Homo sapiens: one gene and its partners. The protein of the gene in region 2 interacts with the protein of the main gene of each other region in a biochemical or structural test. Each region holds a gene or a part of one and is shown on either strand. Other genes may lie near its edges. The genes, in order: CRYBG3, ZMYND11, ZBTB38 and ARHGEF18.

Region 1 (4,583 bases), on a different chromosome or scaffold from region 2:
CAGGTGAAACCTCACTAGATAGAATGTCCTCCTGTGAGCTGTCATCCTCATAAATGGGAGACAATGCTAAAGGATAAATTTTGTACCTTTTGGCCTCCACTGATAAGAACATTTCTGAACTATCACTATCAAATGTCTCACCTAATTTAGTACCTTTTTCAAAGTGATGGACAAGGTCAGTTCTACTCTCAGACCTTTCACATGCCAGAACAGGCATGCTGTCAGCGGACGTATCATGAAACAAGACAGACTGTGTTTGTCTTGCTTCTGCGGAAGCATACTTGTCCTCCTCTTGAAGGGGCTCTTCGTATAATATAGTAAAGGAAGAATTTTCTTGTTCATCTTGAGAAACAAAAGCTAAATTATATCCTTTGTCACTATAATCTGTCTCTCTCCTCTTGTCATATATTGCAGTAAGAGACATTCTTTTGTCTAGTCTTACTGTGGTATCCCCAGGTTGAAAATCTGGCATTGCTGGGGCTGGGTAGCCCTCATAATCCTTACTTAATGTAGGGGATTCATATCCCCTGAAATATGTAGGAAGTCTATTTTCATGTGCTATCAAGCCTTCCTTTATTTCTGTAGGCTCTTCCTTTGTTTCTTCAACACTCCCTTCAGCATACTCTTGTGGTGTTTTACTTTCAAATGCAGGAAGCATGGCCTCCCCTTGTTTAGTGGTCAATTCTAGTCCTGTTCCATGTATTTTCTCAATGTCTACCACTGCGGGTAACACTTTGTGTTTCCCAATATTCTCACCACGATCTTCTGGGGATATTTTTTCCATTTCTATCACAGAGGGTGTGGACACAGTTGCTCCAATAGTCTCTTTAACATCTCTCTTGCATGCTTTTTCCATTTCTAAGGGGGCAGGTGCTGTCTCGTGTGCTTCCTTCACTTTTAACACACACGGTACTATTTCAGTATTCTTAATGACCTCTTCAGCAGTCTTTCGGTAAGTAGCTTCCATTTTCAACACAGACCCTTCAGTGTTCCCGGTAAAACCTTTGGCATTTTTTTGGTAAGTATTTACTACCTCTAATGCAAGGGGCATCACCTCAGTTTTGCCACCGTCTCTTTCAGTATCCTTTGGGTAAGTATTTTCCATTTCTAACCTCACAGGCATCACTTCAGCCTTTCCAATATCCCCTTCAGCATCCTTTTGGTAAGTATTTTCCATTGCTAATGTAACGGGTATCACTTCAGCCTTTTCACTAATCCCTTCACCACCTTTTTGGTGGATATTTTCCACTTCTGACAAGGCTATCGTCCCAGTCTTGCCAATATCCCCTTCAGCATGCGTTTGGTAAATATTTTCCATGTCTACTGTAACAGGTGTCATCTCAGTCTTTACAATATCCCCTTCAGCATCCTTTTGGTGGATATTTTTCACTTCTGGCATCATAGGTATCACCTCAATTTTGCCAATATCCCCTTCAGTATCCTTCATCTTATAAGCTTTTTCCATTCCTAAAATGACAGCTGATCCCTCAGTTTTTTCAATACAGCTCTCGGCATCCATTTGGTATACTTCTCCCATTTTAAAAACATTAGCTTTTGGCTCAGTTTTCGTGACATTCAATTCAGCATCCATTTTATGTATTCTTCCCATTTCTATCATAGGAGGGACTGCCTCATATTTCAGAATATTCAATTCAGCATCCTTTTTGTTTGTTTTCCCTGTTTCTAACATGGAAGGTATAAGTTCAATTTTCCCTATATTTATTTCATTATCCTTCTTGTGTACTTTCCCTACATCTGACATTGCAAGAGGTGTGTTTTTACTGTGTCCTGGCAAGTTTTTTTCAGATATACATACAAGGCTATCAGACAAACTGCTTTTAGATGTACCAGGTGCATGGATGTCATCATTCACAAGTGGAGGCCATTTGAAATTTAATACAAGAGTTCTTCTGTCCTCTGTCTCAGTTTTGTTATTATCCACATTCTCTATTTCCATTGTCTCATTACAGTCCTCACTGCGAAATAAATGTGTTTTTACCCTATCATCTAACCGTTTATGTGACATGTCTTCAGCTAGTAAAACCGTATCTGATTCCTGCAAATTTATACTATCAGACAGTCCAGATCCATTTCCAGAAAATAGGGATTTTTGGTAGAGAACAATTTCTCCTCCCTTAATTGACTCTGTGCCACTAGCTAAGTTACTTAGGGAGAAGAATTCATTTAATACTTTATTTTCACTAATTTGTGTGCTTTGATTTACTGGCTGTTCTGAAACCAAGAACTCTCTAACTACATCATGTGGCTTAACACTATCACTGTTCAGAATTTTTGAAGTATTAGCCTGAAGTTCAGAATCCCAAGTATCCTCAGTATCTTCAAAAGTATCATTTCTCAATTTTTCTTGGGCTACATAAATAATCTCATTGACTAATTCCCTAGCTTTATCTTCTAACAAACAAGATACATTCATACTATTAGGATCAACAAGAAGATTCTTCTCACCAACTGTTGGTGAAACACAGGGCTTCTCTTTGACTTCTGACATGTTTTCCATGCCTTGCTCTTCCAAACCCTCTGTCTGTTGTATTTCTGTTAGTGTCACTTCTGATGGGTTTTTCTCAGAGATGTCTTCTTTCAGGGTACCCAGATTCATTATACCTTCTATGGCTATATGCTCCTGGCAGGTACTCACTGTGTGTTTGAATTTTAGTTCTTCCCTGACAGAATTAAAAATCTCACCAATCAATGTATCGGCCTTTTTGAGTAAACTACTTTTGAGGTCCAAAAGTTGGTCATGTGCTCTTCTCCTGGCTTCTATGTGCTCAGCAGAGGCTTCAGAACACTGTTGGCCTGAGCTGTTAACTGACGCTGCAGGCCCAGCAACTGCTCCAGTCTCTGCTTCCACGAGATTGTCAAATTGGGCAGCAGTTGGGAAATCAATGGATATCTTCCCAGTATAAATCCCAAAATGTTCCTGAAATGGGGTTACTTCTGTCCCAATTGAGACAGACGTTTCAAATTCCAAATAAGAGGTAGTAGGGTACAACAGGTTAGTTACAGAGGTACCTTCATGTGTGAGATCTTTGGTAACTTGTATAGAATCCAAATTATTTTGGGGCTTATGTGAATTTACTATCATGCTAACTTCTTCAGGGTAACTAGAGGAAGATGACACACTATCAATACCACCATTTAAAAAATGGATGTTCTCTTTCTTTCTGTAAGATGAGGATTTCTTTTCCAATTTCAGCACAGAAGGTACTTTAAGGAAGCTTGAGTCCTCAGATGCAGAAGAATTTTTTTCCAAACTGGAATCAGAATCCAGAAAAGGTGAATTTACTTTCATGCTGCCAGTTTCTTGGAATTTAGGGGAAATATTAGTTAAGCTGAGTTCCGCCATTTCTGAGTGACCAGAAATCTTTTTAGTCCCACAAATATCCAAAGATTGATGAAACACACAAGTGTGAGCTTCACAATTCTGCGCCATTTGCCTACTGATTTTTTCATCATGAATAGGTGGTAAAATCCAAGATATATTACTTTTAAGAAGAGCAGGAGGAGAGCCTAAGGCATCTACCTCTGGTTCTGGCTTATCTTCATATTTGGAGGCAGCAGGAGAAAGCTCAGCTTGGCAATTCTCTTTAAGGCCAGCATCTGAACATTTCTCTCCTATCTCATTATGATTAATTGATTGAAAACGTTTGCCCTGTTCAACTTCTAGAAAGGTTAATTCTGACAAAATAGGCTTTTCTGGAACATGGGTAATTTTCAATGGAAAAGAAGACATTTTATCCTGAGAAATGTTTCTGGGCTCCACTTTTGAAAGAGATACCTTGGACAAGGATATAGTTTTTCCTCTTCCAGAATGTGACTCCACAAGAACATTGTTCTGACCATCAATTTCAGCTTTTGATACAATGTTAGCAGTTTTGGCTTCCAAGGAAAGAGAATCAGACTTCTCTATTATGCTCATATTTGCTTTAGTGTTTGAAGACACTAACTCTACTCTATTAGGGTCTTGAGATAAAATGGAACTGCAATCCTTAGAGAGGTTTCCAGAGTCAAAGCTCAATAGCTCCAACCCAGTTAAGTGAGGGCCACTGGCTTCAGAACCTGGAAGAACCTGGCATTTTTCACTATTAGAAAGAACTTCTTTGAATTCAAAAATTGCAGATGTATATTCAAGGCAAAAGGAAGGAGGAGGACTCTTCCTGCCTGCAGCCTCAACATGGTTTTTCACATTTTCTTCTTTACACTTCCTAGGCTGATAGGAAATACCAACAATGTTGACATTCCCAGTTTCAATGGGCACAGGAGAACCCTCATTCATTAAATCAGGAATATCCAACTTGCTCAGCATCCCAACTCCAGAAACAAAGGTAGGAGGTGAAATACTGAAATTTAGTTTTTTACAGTCAAGGCTAAGAGATGTTTTAGCATCAGGTGATACTTCAGCTTGTTGAGGACTCTCAGAGTCAAGAGGAGTTTCTGAAATGTGACTTCTATTAAGTTCAAATTTCAACTCAGGTGCATTTTCATTTCCTAAGCTTGCTACAACTGCTGATTCACTGATGTAATTTAAAGAGGCCAGGTCTTTTTTATTCATTCTAATATGAGGA
Region 2 (3,425 bases):
AATACAAGTGAGTTTAACAAAGAAACATTTAGAATAGATCTGAATGTAAGAACTACAGAACTGTTTCAGAAATAAAACATACTACCTTGATGTGACATTTTTTTCTTAACCTTGTTGAGCTGGTTTTGTTCAGCTTAATTTACTGTTCAAAGGCATTATCTGTTGGTCACACCAGTGGGTATATGATTGAATTTAGGGAACAGGGTTGACACAGCAGGGCTAGTCCTGCATATTTTTTCTTAAATATTTCCCAATTGTGTTTTTCATTATTTCTTTTCAATATATAACTTTTATAACAAATTATTAGCTTTGATCTTGTAGTTTAAAATTGCAGGGAACTGGGGTAATCTTTTACTGAGCTGGATCTTAGAGAAAATGAATATTTAAATTTTAAAGTTTGCACATTTCATCTTTGTCCTAACATGAGTGCTTGTAACAAAATAAACAACAAAAACAAAGCCAAAAACTACCTTTATCCATATGTGAAATTATAGATGAGGCATACGAATTTGTTTAATGCTTCCCTTCCCTTCCCACATATCATCTCACTGCCTATTATCTGGTGTCACCTCATGTATCGTAAGTTAATACTAAAAGAAGAGAAAGCACTTAAGTTTCACAGAAGCCGTTATGTTTGTAGTAATGGGTCATTGCCTACTAATGAACTCCATCACTGTACACAGAATGAAGAATAATGCATGTTAATTTTCTTGTATTAAAGATGCCGTGATTTGTAAAAAGTCTGTATTTTGCGGAATGTCTGGATTAAGAAGCATTACCAATAGGAATGGATCGATAGTTGAATAATGATTTTTTATACATAGATATATAAAATACAGCCAGGAAAACTTAAATTACTTTTCTTTTAAAATATCTCACAATTTATGTGGTATTTTTAAAGACTGATCTTAGACCAAGTCAAATTCCCATTTATCATTTAGTTATTTTTTGAGGTTAGAGAATAATTTGTACATATTTATTTAGACCTTTGATATTTATTAAAGCAATTACTCACAATGGAAGTGAAAGAATCAGGAGAAAAGCCTTTTAAAAAGTATTCTCCAGGTTTGTCAGGGTCACTCTAAAGATAAAAATGTAACTAAGTCTTCTGTGAAATATCATCCATCTAATCTTGATGCTGTTGCAGATGGTGGTGACACAAGTTAATTGACAAACTACTGCCAAATGGTGCACAATATTTTGTAAAAAGTACCCAGTAGCCCCATTTCATACAATGTACCTAAATTATGCAGTAACTTGGCATCATCGTTCCCTCCTTGTTGCTGTGTAATTAGTCAGTGTTGCCACAGTGTGTGGCGCTGATGGAGATGTCAGAACCGAGAACACTTAACCTTCTTTGATTGTTTTTCAAGTTTTAAGACTTCGATCCACCCCTATGAGAGCAAGTAATTGTGGAAATATTTTTGGTGTAAAATCATTCCAGAGTATGTAATATTTAACTGATAGCTGCATGAAAGTGAGATTCGTGTTACTTTGGCTTTTCTGTCTCTGTTGACACGGTTGCACATTTCCAAGTTACTACAGCGTGAAAACTGTGTGTTTAAAAAAAAACAAAATTAAAAAAAGAGATTGTGGCCTGGTTTTGTAAAAGTTTTAGGTAAAATTACAATTGATTGTTTTAGGAATCATTATTAAAAATTTTCTGCAAATCATAAAGCTATATCGAGGTGTTGAGCTTAGCCACTATGCACATTGTAATTATTCATTGTGGCTGTCCAGTTCTATGATGCATTCTGGCATTTTGTAAGCTGCTCTGACTAGCAATATATAGATTCATTTAATGTGTTAACATTGGTTAATAAATGTATTTAAAAAAAACTAGCTTTAGTAATTTGTTTATTTAGTGTAGTCCCCTATACCCAACCAAATACTACCGTCGCTAAATGTTGATCACATACTGTGGGTCACTCTTTAGTGACTGCTTAACTTTATATAAAATCAGTGTGTTAAACATCATTTGTTCACTTAAACGTATAAATTGAATTTACTTTCACCAGATCTCAAAAAGACCATACATGATATAATAAGGAGAGGATGATTATTATATCAGCTGCATATCAATTATTGCAAATCAGCCTGAAAAACAGATACACAACTCAGAATGGAATAGATTCTTAATTGGAGGCCAGCTGAGGCTAACCCTCTGCTGTTTTCATCTACTTCTTGGTATGGTAGTTGTGGGTAGTTGACCAGCCCCAGGTCTTAGTGCCAACATTAACCCAGCCTTAGTCGGTACTCTGGTTTTCATCATTCATGCCATCATTCATCATTCATGTGATAGACGTATCACAACTGGGATCAGATGGTTTAGGTCTGAATATTAAAGTCCCAGTTCCTGTAGGATTGTAAAGTTTCCAACAGTAGTAGTAGTATCATTCTATTCACCCTCATTTTGTCTTTGTTCTTCTAGATATATTTTCCTAAGCAACAGGCTTACTGGTCCTCAAAAATGAGGTGTCGGCCAGGCGTGGTGGCTCATGCCTGTAATCCCAGCACTTTGGGAGACCAAGGTGGGTGGATCACCTGAAGTCAGGAGTTCGAGACCAGCCTGGCCAACATGGTGAAACCCTGTCTGTACAAAAATACAAAAAAAATTAGCCGGGCATGAAGGCAGGTGCCTGTAATCCCAGCTACTTGGGAGGCTGAGGCGGGAGAATCTCTTGAACCTGGGAGGCAGAGGTTGCAGTGAGCCGAGATCACCCGATTGCACTCCAGCCTGGCTGGGCAACACAGCGAGACTCCATCTCAAAAAAAAAAAAAGTGTCACTTGTTATTTTATGAAATGCCAACTCTGATTCTAGACCTTAATTATTAGAATTGTGTTCTAAAAGTCTTTTCAATAAAAAAATTCCAACTGACAAATATGAAACCCATATCTATAATACATGAGTATCACTAAAAATTTCAGTCATTGATGACAGCAAAGTGAAAGAAGGCCTCTAGGAGGGTGTATGGAGTGAGTGAAGTGACAAGGTTGCTTCTGTAATTGGGGGCGACCAAATTGAAGTAGTGAAGCAAGTGGCTTAGAGAATAAAAAGCATTTTGCCACATTCCAATATTAAAAGAAAATAAAACTAGAAATAGGATACTTGTGTGAAAGTGATCTTTTCATAAACAAGAAGGAAAAGTGTGCAACTGGAGGAAAGTAATAGCTTTGGTCGGGCTACTCAAGACAAGATAGGTGTAAACAGGGAAGTTTAAAAAGATGTAATAACTTGCTCAGATTTACCCAGTAGGTCAGTCTCAAGCTCAGTTCTGTTTGATTGTAAAACCCATTTTCTTAACTCTTACGCTAGGCTGAATATATGGATAGAAAATTATTTGACAAACATTTGAAATTGAAGTCATCAAGTTCAATACATCTGGAATCAAACCCATCACCTTCCCCTGCCTCACTCCACTTC
Region 3 (4,583 bases), on a different chromosome or scaffold from region 2:
CTAATTTTTGTATTTTTAGTAGAGATGGGGTTTCACCATGTTGGCCAGGATGGTCTCCATCTCTTGACCTCGTGATCTGCCGGCCTTGGCCTGCCAAAGTGCTGAGATTACAGACATGAGCCATAGCGCCCAGCCGAGAAACTTTTTTTTTCTTTGAGACAGGGTTTCACTCTGTCACCCAGGCTGGAGTGCAGTGGCACGATCATGGCTCACTGCAGCCTCAACTTCTCAGGCTCAAGCGATCCTCCCAAGTAGCTGAGACTACAGGCATGTGTCACCATGCCTGGCTAATTTTTGTATTTTTTGTAGAAACAAGGTTTCACCATGTTGCCCAGGCTGGTCTTGAACTCCTGGGCTCAAGCAATCCACCACCCACCTTGGCCTCCCAAAGTGCTAGGATAACAGGCATGAGCCACCGGGCCCAGCCGAGAAACATTTAAAAGTAGACTAAAAAGTCTCAGGCTGGGGCTATTAATGCTACCCCAAAAGATGTGATATATATGTCTAGCTTTTTATTTTCAGGAAAAGTTTCAAAACATTTACTGAAATAATAAGTGGTAAAGTTGTAAGCTCTGTTTGGAGAACTTTTAATAAGTTTAACATTTTATGTAACCTTCTAACCATTGTTGATGTTGGTGAAGTATTCCCCTCATTCGTAAATATAAACCATATGATGGGTGCCTTGTGATGCCCCAGACTTAAAGGTGTGAAATAAAAATGAACTCAAGTCTTTGCCTGAGGTGCCTGGTACCTAGTTCTCTAGTTTTGTCAATATCTGACTAAACACTCTGGTTTCTGATTGACTTTTGCCCCTGGACTTGACCTTTCTGGCACCCACATCCACACCCTGAAGAGCATGTATTGTCTGTTGTGTGGGGATACCTGTTACTGGCCAATTTGCCACAGCTTCTCAGATATCTGACAGAGGCTGATGCCTGGCCTACTCTCCTGTTATGGCTGCCTAGCCTCTGCCCAGTCCCCTTACATTAGGATGGAGCTGAGGAGGAATGGAATAGAATAACAAGATGAGTTGCTGCAAAAATACTTCAGCCTCTGAAAGTCTGTCTTTCCAAGTTGTTAGGAACTGAAAGTGTCTATTGATCGGGGAGCTGGCTGGGCTAGTGGTATAAGCTAATGATAAGACCAGGTTGGGCTGGGCATGGTGGCTCATGCCTATAATCCCTGCACTTTGGGAGGCCGAGGCAGGTGGATCACTTGAGGTCAGGAGTTCAAGACCAGCCTGACCAACATGGTGAAACCCCATCTCTACTAAAAAAAAATACAAAATTAGCCGAGCAGGGTGGCGCACACCTATAATCCCAGCTACTTGGGAGGCTGAGGCAGGGGAATTGCTTGAACCTGGGAGGCAGAGGTTGCAGTGAACCGAGATCACACCACAGGACTCCGGCCTGGGCAACAAGAGAGAAACTCCATCTCCAAAAAAAAAAAAAAAGACCAGGTGAATGGGGAATACAGTGCCTGCTAGAAGGGTGCAGTTGAAGGAATAAGTTAAGAATATGTGCCAGATTTCAAAAGCTGGAGCCAAATGGGGATGATGTGTTGCTGGAAGTCCTAGCCTAACAGAGTCTTTCAGGAAGGGCAGAGCCAAAGGTCTCAGTCAACATCAGGGTCCATTCATGTGGGAGAATGGCTAATCACAGCTTGCTAATTTCAACTACCATCTGTTATGACTCCTCAAAGCACTAAGTATGCAGTAGTTGACATATGAATGGTGTTAGGGTTGGGGGAGGGGGCCAGCCTCCTGATTTCTAATTTCTAGCTGCATATTACTACAGGAAGGGGAGTAAGACCACCACATCAGGTACCAGAATTTCACTACTGTCAACACTTTGTGTTTGAAAGAAAGCCATAGATCCCTGTGACCACTGGATGCTGAGTGACCTCACAGACAACATCAGCAAAGCAGGATTGTGTACAAACACACATTTTGTAAATATTTTGATATTTGACATTTCAAAAAAAGCATCAAAGGAGACAGCCTGGGAAAAGTTAGACTTTGTTGAGCTTTCTCAACCTTAATTTTGTATTTTGTTATTTTTTTCTATTTTAATTTCACATGGGAGTAATAATTCAAATTTGAGGCACTATAGTCTTTTCAGAGCTTAGGTCATCTAAAGATCTGAGCCTGGCCTTGTTGAGCCATGATGAGCAGATGTGGACTGAGCACACAGTCTCACACAGGCAGCTCTTACACTAGTTGAGTATTTTAATCCCTGAGGTTTTAGAATTGTCATAGCACAGGTGTGCAAGCTCCTTTCTCCCCATGGGTCAGCATCATGAATGTTCTGTCACTCTCCTTAGAGAGTTTTGCAGAAATACCACATCATATTCACCAAAACTAAGAATTCATAGTAATAGGGCTTTATAATTTCTCACACTGAAATCCCCTAATTTCTTGTCAAGAACCAAGTTGGAAAATACCACACTTCAGGGTTTTGTTTTTAACTCAAGAAGCTTCTGGTTTTCATCAGAACTTTAAAGCTCCCTCCTACCTCCAAAATAGTATTGTTAGAAAATGTAATGCTGAGACTCTGTCAGAATAAGTAGGTGATATATGCAAAATGATATGGGCAACTTAGAAAAGTGCATGTCAAGGTAAACTGCTGATAAAGGCCGGGAGTGGTGGCTCACACCGGAAATCCCAGCACTTTGGGAGGCTGAGGTGCGCAGATTGCTTGAGGCCAGGAGTTCAAGACCAGCCCAGCCAAAATCGTGAAGCCCTGCCTCTACTAAAAATACAAAAATTAGCTGGGCTTGGTGGCACATGCCTGTAATCCCAGCTTCTTGGGAGGCTGAGGTATGAGAATTGGTTGAACCCAGGAGGCGGAGGTTGTGGTGAGCCACGACTGGGCCACTGTACTCCAGCCTAGGCAACAGAGGAAAAAAAAAAAAAAGTGTTGATAAAAAATAATCATCATAATTATGGTCAGTATTGGTGCTTTGACTTTTGATATTGTTATTATCATTATTTTAAAGATTTTTTTGTCTTTCTAAATTGACTTTCATCTGGGAGCCTTAGCATCACTTCTAACTAGCCAAAGCATGTTTGATTGTAGGCCAGACTCCCCATGGAGAGGCTTCTGATCTTATTCACAGGGACATTTAACCTGGGGTTCACTGAAACCTTTGAGGAATGATGGATGAGTCATCTCTCTGCCAAAAGAAGATGATTCCTGGCATTCTATGGGGCTCCCAGTGCATTGGGATAAGGAGGCTTGGAAACTCCTCCACGGAGGCATTGACCTTGGGTAGTGCCTTCCAAGCCAGAGTGGAGAGAGTGGACCCCTCATCTTTGTCCAAAAGAGCATTAGTATAACCCCTCACCCCAACCCCACCCCATTCTCTCCTTTTTAAAAAGAGAGAAGAATATATACAAGAAAAAAATTGGAAAAAATACATCAAAATGTTAAAAATTGTTGAGATGGTATTTTATGTGGTGTTTTGCCCCCATTTAACATTATGTTGTAAACATTTTACCAAATCACTAGATGGTCTTTGAAAACATGATTTTTAATGGCTCTATTTCCATTGCACTGATACATTTTAATGTATCAGTTTTTTGTTGTTGGACATTTTGATTCACTTTAGTGTTCTACTATTTTTAAAGTTTCTAATGCATATTGGTGAATTGGCCCCTAGAAAGGTACGAATGTCTATTTCAAAACCTTGGTCTTTTTTAGTTTCTCACATTAAAATGCATGCTGCTAGGCCCCAGTGGTATTGGAAGCTCTGAGGAGGAGCCTGGGGATATGCATTTTAACCTGCCCTCCCAATTCTTCTGCATTAATGCCTGAGAACTATTGACATGCTGCATTCAGTTCAACAAATATTCAGTTGGCAAACATTTATTAGACAAAAAAAATTAGGAAACTCTGAGCTAGTATGTCTATGCCAGAATTTAACTTAAAGTCTTTTTTTGGCTTCTGATTTTTAGATTTTCCTTTAACTGTAATATGATGTAGTAAAAAGATTATTAGCTAGGGAATCAAGAAACCATATTGTACACATGAAATCACTGAGGCCCATAATGGTTCATTTACTTCCTGGTGGTCACTCAGAGATTTAATGGCAAAGGTTGAACTAGACAAAGGGCCCAGAGTCACCCAACCTTTAGGTAAGAGACAAAAGGCGCCAATGAGAAGATTCACTCCTGAGGCAACGCCCTGCCTCAGCCAAGGAGCTCTTACCTGCCCTCAGATAGGCATGCCCGTACTTCAAGACACTCTTGGGCAGCCTAGACCTAGCAAGGGGCCCACGTGCCCATCTTGGTCACCTAATGGGGCCAGACTGTGGTGTGCCCTGATCCCTGAGGTGGTAGCACTGAAGAAGCTGGACCCAGGAGGACAGAGGGCAGCCGTGCAGGCAGCATCCATGTGATCAGCATCACAAGAGCAGAGTAGGAGGTGGGATCTGGGGTCAGAAACCAAGACAGCGGAGCAGGGTCAGGGCAAGTGCCAGACTAAAATATGTGGGCAAATTTGAGGTCAAGGCAGGGATGAGTTGAAAGGAAGACAAGCAAGAGCTAGAGGGGAACTGCTGAGGATTTGGCCTCAAGGATGGAG
Region 4 (5,044 bases), on a different chromosome or scaffold from region 2:
GCCTGGTGTGGTGGGGGTCACCTATAATCCCAGCTACCTGGGAGGCTGAGGCAGGAGAATCACTTGAACCCAGGAGGCAGAGGTTGCAGTGAGCTGAGATTGCACCACTGCACTCCAGCCCGGGCAACAGAGCAAGACTCCATCTCAAAAAAAAAAAAAAAAAAAAAAAAAAAAAAAAAAGGAAAAGGAAAAAAAGCATAGATTATGGAAAATGCAGCAAAAATAATGTTAAAGTGATTAATTTAAATGTGGTAAAATAGGCATAACGTAAAATTTACCATTTTAACTTTCTTTAAAAAAAATGGGATTTCACTCTGTCACCCAGGCTGGAGTACGGTGGCACAATTATAGGTCACTGCAGCTTTGAACACCTGGGCTCAAGTGAGCCTCCCCGCCTCAGCCTCCGGAGCGGCTGGGACTGCAGGCAGGCACCACCAAATGTGGCGAAGTTTTAAATTTTTTGTAGAGTACTCACTCCAGTGACAGGCTGAAGCCAGCCCAAGAGCCAAGTTTAGTGGAGCATCATGGCTCATGCCTGTAATCCCAGCACTTTGGGAGGCCAAGGCGGGTGGACTGCTTGAGCCCAGGAGTTTGAGACCAGCCTGGGAAACATAATAAAATCCCTGTCTCTACAAAAAAAAAAAATTAACTTAGGCTGGGCGCCATGTCTCGTGCCTCTAATCCCAGCACTTTGGGAGGCCAAGGTGGGAGGATTGCTTGAGCCCAGGAGTTCGAGACCAGCCTGGGCAATATGGTGAGACCCTGTCTGTACTAAAAATACAAACCAAAAAAAAATAGCCAGGCGTGGTGATGTGTGCCTGTGGTCCCAGCTACTCAGGAGGCGGAGGTGGGAGGATCACTTGAGCCCAGGGGATGGAGGTTGCAATGAACCAAAATCACCCCCACTGCACTCCAGCCTGGATGACAGAGTGAGAGCCTGTCTCAAAAGAAAAATTATATATAAAAAATTATATATAAATTATATATAAGTCTATATATAATCCATATATAATTATATATAAAGTATATATAAATTATACATAAATTATCTGTAAACAAAAAACTTAGCCAGGCATGGTGGCATGTGCCTGTAATCCCAACTACTCAGGAGGCTGAAGCAGAAGGATCACTTGAGCCCAAGAGATTGAGGCTGCAGTGAGCTATGATTTTTCCACTGCACTCCAGACTGGATGACAGAATGAGACCCTATCTCTAAAAATAAAATAAACAGTTTTTTGTTGTTGTTGTTGTTGTTTTCTAAAAAAAGCCAAATCTGAGCATTTCCTATCAACTCCACACTCGGTGACATCACACTGGTAGGTGAAATCGGCCATGCTGGGGGTATTTACACCAGGAGAATTGGCAATGGCTACAAATCGGAGAGGTGGTTGTTAAACGTTACCAGCACACCATGTTGTTCCGCCAGCTTCCAGGTACCCATGTAACAATGTAGCCACGTGTGTTTCTGTCTCTCTGTGTGTACCCACCATGCTGGTGTGTGTCTGGGTGCCTGAGTCTCTACGGATACACATGACCTGCACGTCCCTATATGTTGCTGTCTATACACCCATGTGCCTGGGTGAGGCCCCCACACCCTGTTCCTCTTCAGCAGTTGGTTCCACAGGAAGCTGCTGGGGTGGGGGTTGAGGACGCTGGGCCTCCCTCCAGCTCCCCACCCCTCCTCCTCAAGACACCTGCATGCGCAGGGCTGAGGGGTGGGAGCAGGGCTCTCTGCCTCCAGAACCCCCATCCTCTGGGCTCTTTTTAGGCCCCTAGATTGGCCTGCAGCTGGGAGCAGAGTGGCAAGCATGCAGGCAGGCAGTTGAGAAAGAGGAAGTCGAGGTGCTATTGGGTCATTCTGTGGTTATCCCAGGCTCTACCCAGCCAGCGGTTCCCTTGGGCCAGCTCGAAACGCTGGCCGTAGGTCATGGGAGCTGCAGGAGCTGTTAGCCAGGCTAGGTGCCTGCAGGTTGAAGAACTGAGCTCTATCTGGTAAGTACTTATCCTGGGAAGTGGAGAGAGATGGACCCATCGGGACAGAGTGGCAGTGGGGTCTGGGAAGTCTAGGGGGACAGCGAGCAGACATACATCACTGTTTCTCTCCCCCTTGCAGTCAACTTGCTTCCTGAGTGGGTGGGGGAAGCTGTTTGACCCTTGCGTTCATTGTGCAGAGATCTGTGGTCATAAGAGGTCACCCCAGGGGACGGGGATCCTTGAGGGGCTGCTAGGTAAGAAAGGAGGGTGGAGGCCGGGCGCGGTGGCTCACACCTGTAATCCTAGCACTTTGGGAGGCTGAGGAGGGCGGATCACTTGAGGTCAAGAGTTGGAGACCAGCCCGGCCAACATGGTGAAACCCCGTCTCTACTAAAAATACAAAAATTAGCCAGGCGTGGTGGCGGGCAGCTGTAATCTCAGCTACTCGGGAGGCTGAGGCAGGAGAATGGCTTGAACCCGGGAGGTAGAGGTTGAAGTGAGCCTCTCAGTCTCAAAACAAAGAAAAGAAAAAGAAAAGCAAAGAAAGGACGATAGAGCTCCTTGTAGCCAAGGCCCTCCTGCGTGGAGACAGGAGACAGAGAATGAATGGGGGAGCTGGGGCAAAGGCTCAGGTGCCCTTTGCATCTTAAACTGCAGATTCCGGGCCCCCCAAGAACCTCCCTGTTGCAGATTCTGAATCCACTGTCAAAACAAACTCACACTTAAGGCTGATGGCTGACAACCAGCCCTGAGAAGGGTCTTGTCCTGATCTGAAATCATCCAGAGAGCACATCCCTCCACCCAGGCAGCCTTCCTCCAGGTGAGGGTTCTCCCCCTTGGGAGACATCCCCTGTCTCCTCTCGTGGCCCCTTCTTAGGGGGACCTCCTGCACCACCGCCTGCCTGGGACTGGGAGGGGTGGGGGAGGAAGGCTGCGGTTTCTGCTGGGCACACCCAGTCTGTTGTTTCCTGCCAGCCCCCAATGCTGCAGGGCAGGCTTCAGGCACCCTGAGGTCTAGGAAGGTGGCCCCAGAACCAGGAGGGAGTGAATTGAGCTAGAGTGGACAGCTGGGGCCAGAGAGGATGGAGCTAGGAAGTGACGCTGGGGGCTGATGCTCCAAGGCCAGGTCACCTGCAGTTCTGAGAAAAGAACATGACAACCAAAGGAGGTCAGGAAAGGGTTGCCCTCATAATCAGCCACATTTCAACTCCCTTGCTGTGACTGGGAGTCACTCTGGGAGGGCTGCTTGGTAGAGGCAGCCTTTTCATTATGCCTTGAAGAACCAGTAGATGGCAACTGCAAACACGTCGGTGCTTCTGGTCTGGGCTGTCTCCCATGCCTCCCTGGGCATCCCCTAGCCCATGACAAAGGGATGGGCATATGTTGATGCTCGATACTGTTGTAGATGACATGGTGACTGTGTTGGACAGCTGGGCGTTCAAATCCCAGTTCCCTGGCCTCTATGTGGCCTTGGGCAAATGACTTAACTGCTCTGAGCTTTCGTTTGCTCATCTGTTAAAAGGCTGTTGAGTTTTTTGGGGTGGGTGTGTGTGTGTGTGTGTGTGTGTGTGTGTGTGTGTGTGTGTGTGTGTGTGTTGGAGATAGAATCTTGCTCTATCGCCCAGGCTGGAGTACATTGGTGCAATCTCAGCTCACTGCAACCTCCGCCTCTCGGGTTTAAGCAATTCTCCTGCCTCAGCCTCCCAAGTAGCTGGGATTACAGGCACACGCCTCCATGCCCAGCTAATTTTTGTATTTTTAGTAGAGACAGGGTTTCACCATATTGGTTAGGCTGGTCTTGAACTCCTGACCTCAGGTGATCTGCCTGCCTTGGCCTCCCAAAGTGCTGGGATTACAGGCATGAACCACCTCGCTCAGCCTTTATGAAGTTTGGTCTGTGAGATCTTAGTGCAGTGTCTGGCACGTAATAGATCAGAAAACATTGTCAGCCTCACCTATGCCTTCATACTGACCTTGTCCCCAGGCCTTCCTTCCTGAGCAGTCCCACCATCTTCTGAAATGTTCTGGGTCATACCCATGGTGGATCTCAATCTGTAAGCAAGTCTGCTAGAGTGGACTTCTTTTGTTTGTTTGTTTGTTTGTTTGTTTGTTTGTTTTGAGATGGAGTCTTGTTCTATTGCCCAGGCTGGAGTGCAGTGGCACGATCTCGGCTCACTGCAAGCTCCACCTCCCGGGTTCACGCCATTCTCCTGCCTCAGCCTCCCAAGTAGCTGGGACTACAGGCGCCCGCCACCATGCCCGGCTAATTTTATGTATTTTTAATAGAGACGGGGTTTCACCGTGTTAGCCAGGATGGTCTTGATCTCCTGACCTTGTGATCCCCCCACCTCAGCCTCCCAAAGTGCTGGGATTACAGGCATGACCCACTGTGCCCAGCTAGAGTGGACTTCTTAAGGATCCCATCCAGCCATCCCTGTATCATATGCTACTGTATTTTCTCTCTGCCTCTCTCTCTCTCTCTTTTTTTTTTTTTTTTCTGAGACAGAGTTGCCCAGGCTGGAGTGCAGTGGCACAGTCTCAGCTCACTGCAACCTCCACCTCCTGGGTTCAAGCAGTTCTCCTGCCTCAGCCTCCTGAGTAGCTGGGATTATAAATGCATACCACCACACCTGGCTAATTTTAGTAGTTTTAGTAGAGACAGGGTTTCACCATGTTACCCAGGCTGGTCTTGAATTCCTGACCTCAGGTGATCCACCTGCCTTGGCCTCCCAAAGTGCTGGGATTACAGATGTAAGCCACTGCACCTGGCCTGTTGTATTTTTAATTCTAGCATCTTTATCTCCTGTAGGGCTGTTGCTATTGTCTGTGTTTCTTCTTGTTTTTTGGTCATGAGGTTCTGTCTTCTAGTATGCCTGGTAGTCTGATTAAATGCCAGGCCTTGTTTGTGAAAAACTATAGGGATAATTTGTGTCTCTTTATGGTGTCATTTTCCTCCATAGAGCGTTTATTTTTGCTTTGGGCAGGCAGTTAGAGAAAGGAAAGATCACTTTAATCTGATTGTGACCTATGCTGACTTGAAGATGGATTTTGCTCTCGGTGAGGGCTAGTC

The links.
Region 1: the proteins of ZMYND11 (region 2) and CRYBG3 interact in a surface display test, tested with the Homo sapiens proteins (one large-scale study listed by IntAct).
Region 3: the proteins of ZMYND11 (region 2) and ZBTB38 interact in a surface display test, tested with the Homo sapiens proteins (one large-scale study listed by IntAct).
Region 4: the proteins of ZMYND11 (region 2) and ARHGEF18 interact in a test that uses a peptide from one of them, tested with the Homo sapiens proteins (one large-scale study listed by BioGRID and IntAct).

Annotation. Positions count from the first base shown.
Region 1 is NC_000003.12:97,872,928-97,877,510, reverse strand, and holds part of CRYBG3 (very large A-kinase anchor protein), read right to left. Parts: coding exon 1-4,583.
Region 2 is NC_000010.11:252,796-256,220, forward strand, and holds the end of ZMYND11 (zinc finger MYND domain-containing protein 11), read left to right. Parts: 3' UTR 1-1,842; downstream 1,843-3,425. UniProt on the Homo sapiens protein: Chromatin reader that specifically recognizes and binds histone H3.3 trimethylated at 'Lys-36' (H3.3K36me3) and regulates RNA polymerase II elongation. Does not bind other histone H3 subtypes (H3.1 or H3.2).
Region 3 is NC_000003.12:141,371,216-141,375,798, forward strand, and holds part of ZBTB38 (zinc finger and BTB domain-containing protein 38), read left to right. Parts: intron 1-4,583. UniProt on the Homo sapiens protein: Transcriptional regulator with bimodal DNA-binding specificity. Binds with a higher affinity to methylated CpG dinucleotides in the consensus sequence 5'-CGCG-3' but can also bind to E-box elements (5'-CACGTG-3').
Region 4 is NC_000019.10:7,347,250-7,352,293, forward strand, and holds the start of ARHGEF18 (rho guanine nucleotide exchange factor 18), read left to right. Parts: upstream 1-1,687; 5' UTR 1,688-1,992; intron 1,993-2,631; exon of another isoform or gene 2,632-2,794; intron 2,795-5,044. UniProt on the Homo sapiens protein: Acts as a guanine nucleotide exchange factor (GEF) for RhoA GTPases. Its activation induces formation of actin stress fibers. Also acts as a GEF for RAC1, inducing production of reactive oxygen species (ROS). Does not act as a GEF for CDC42.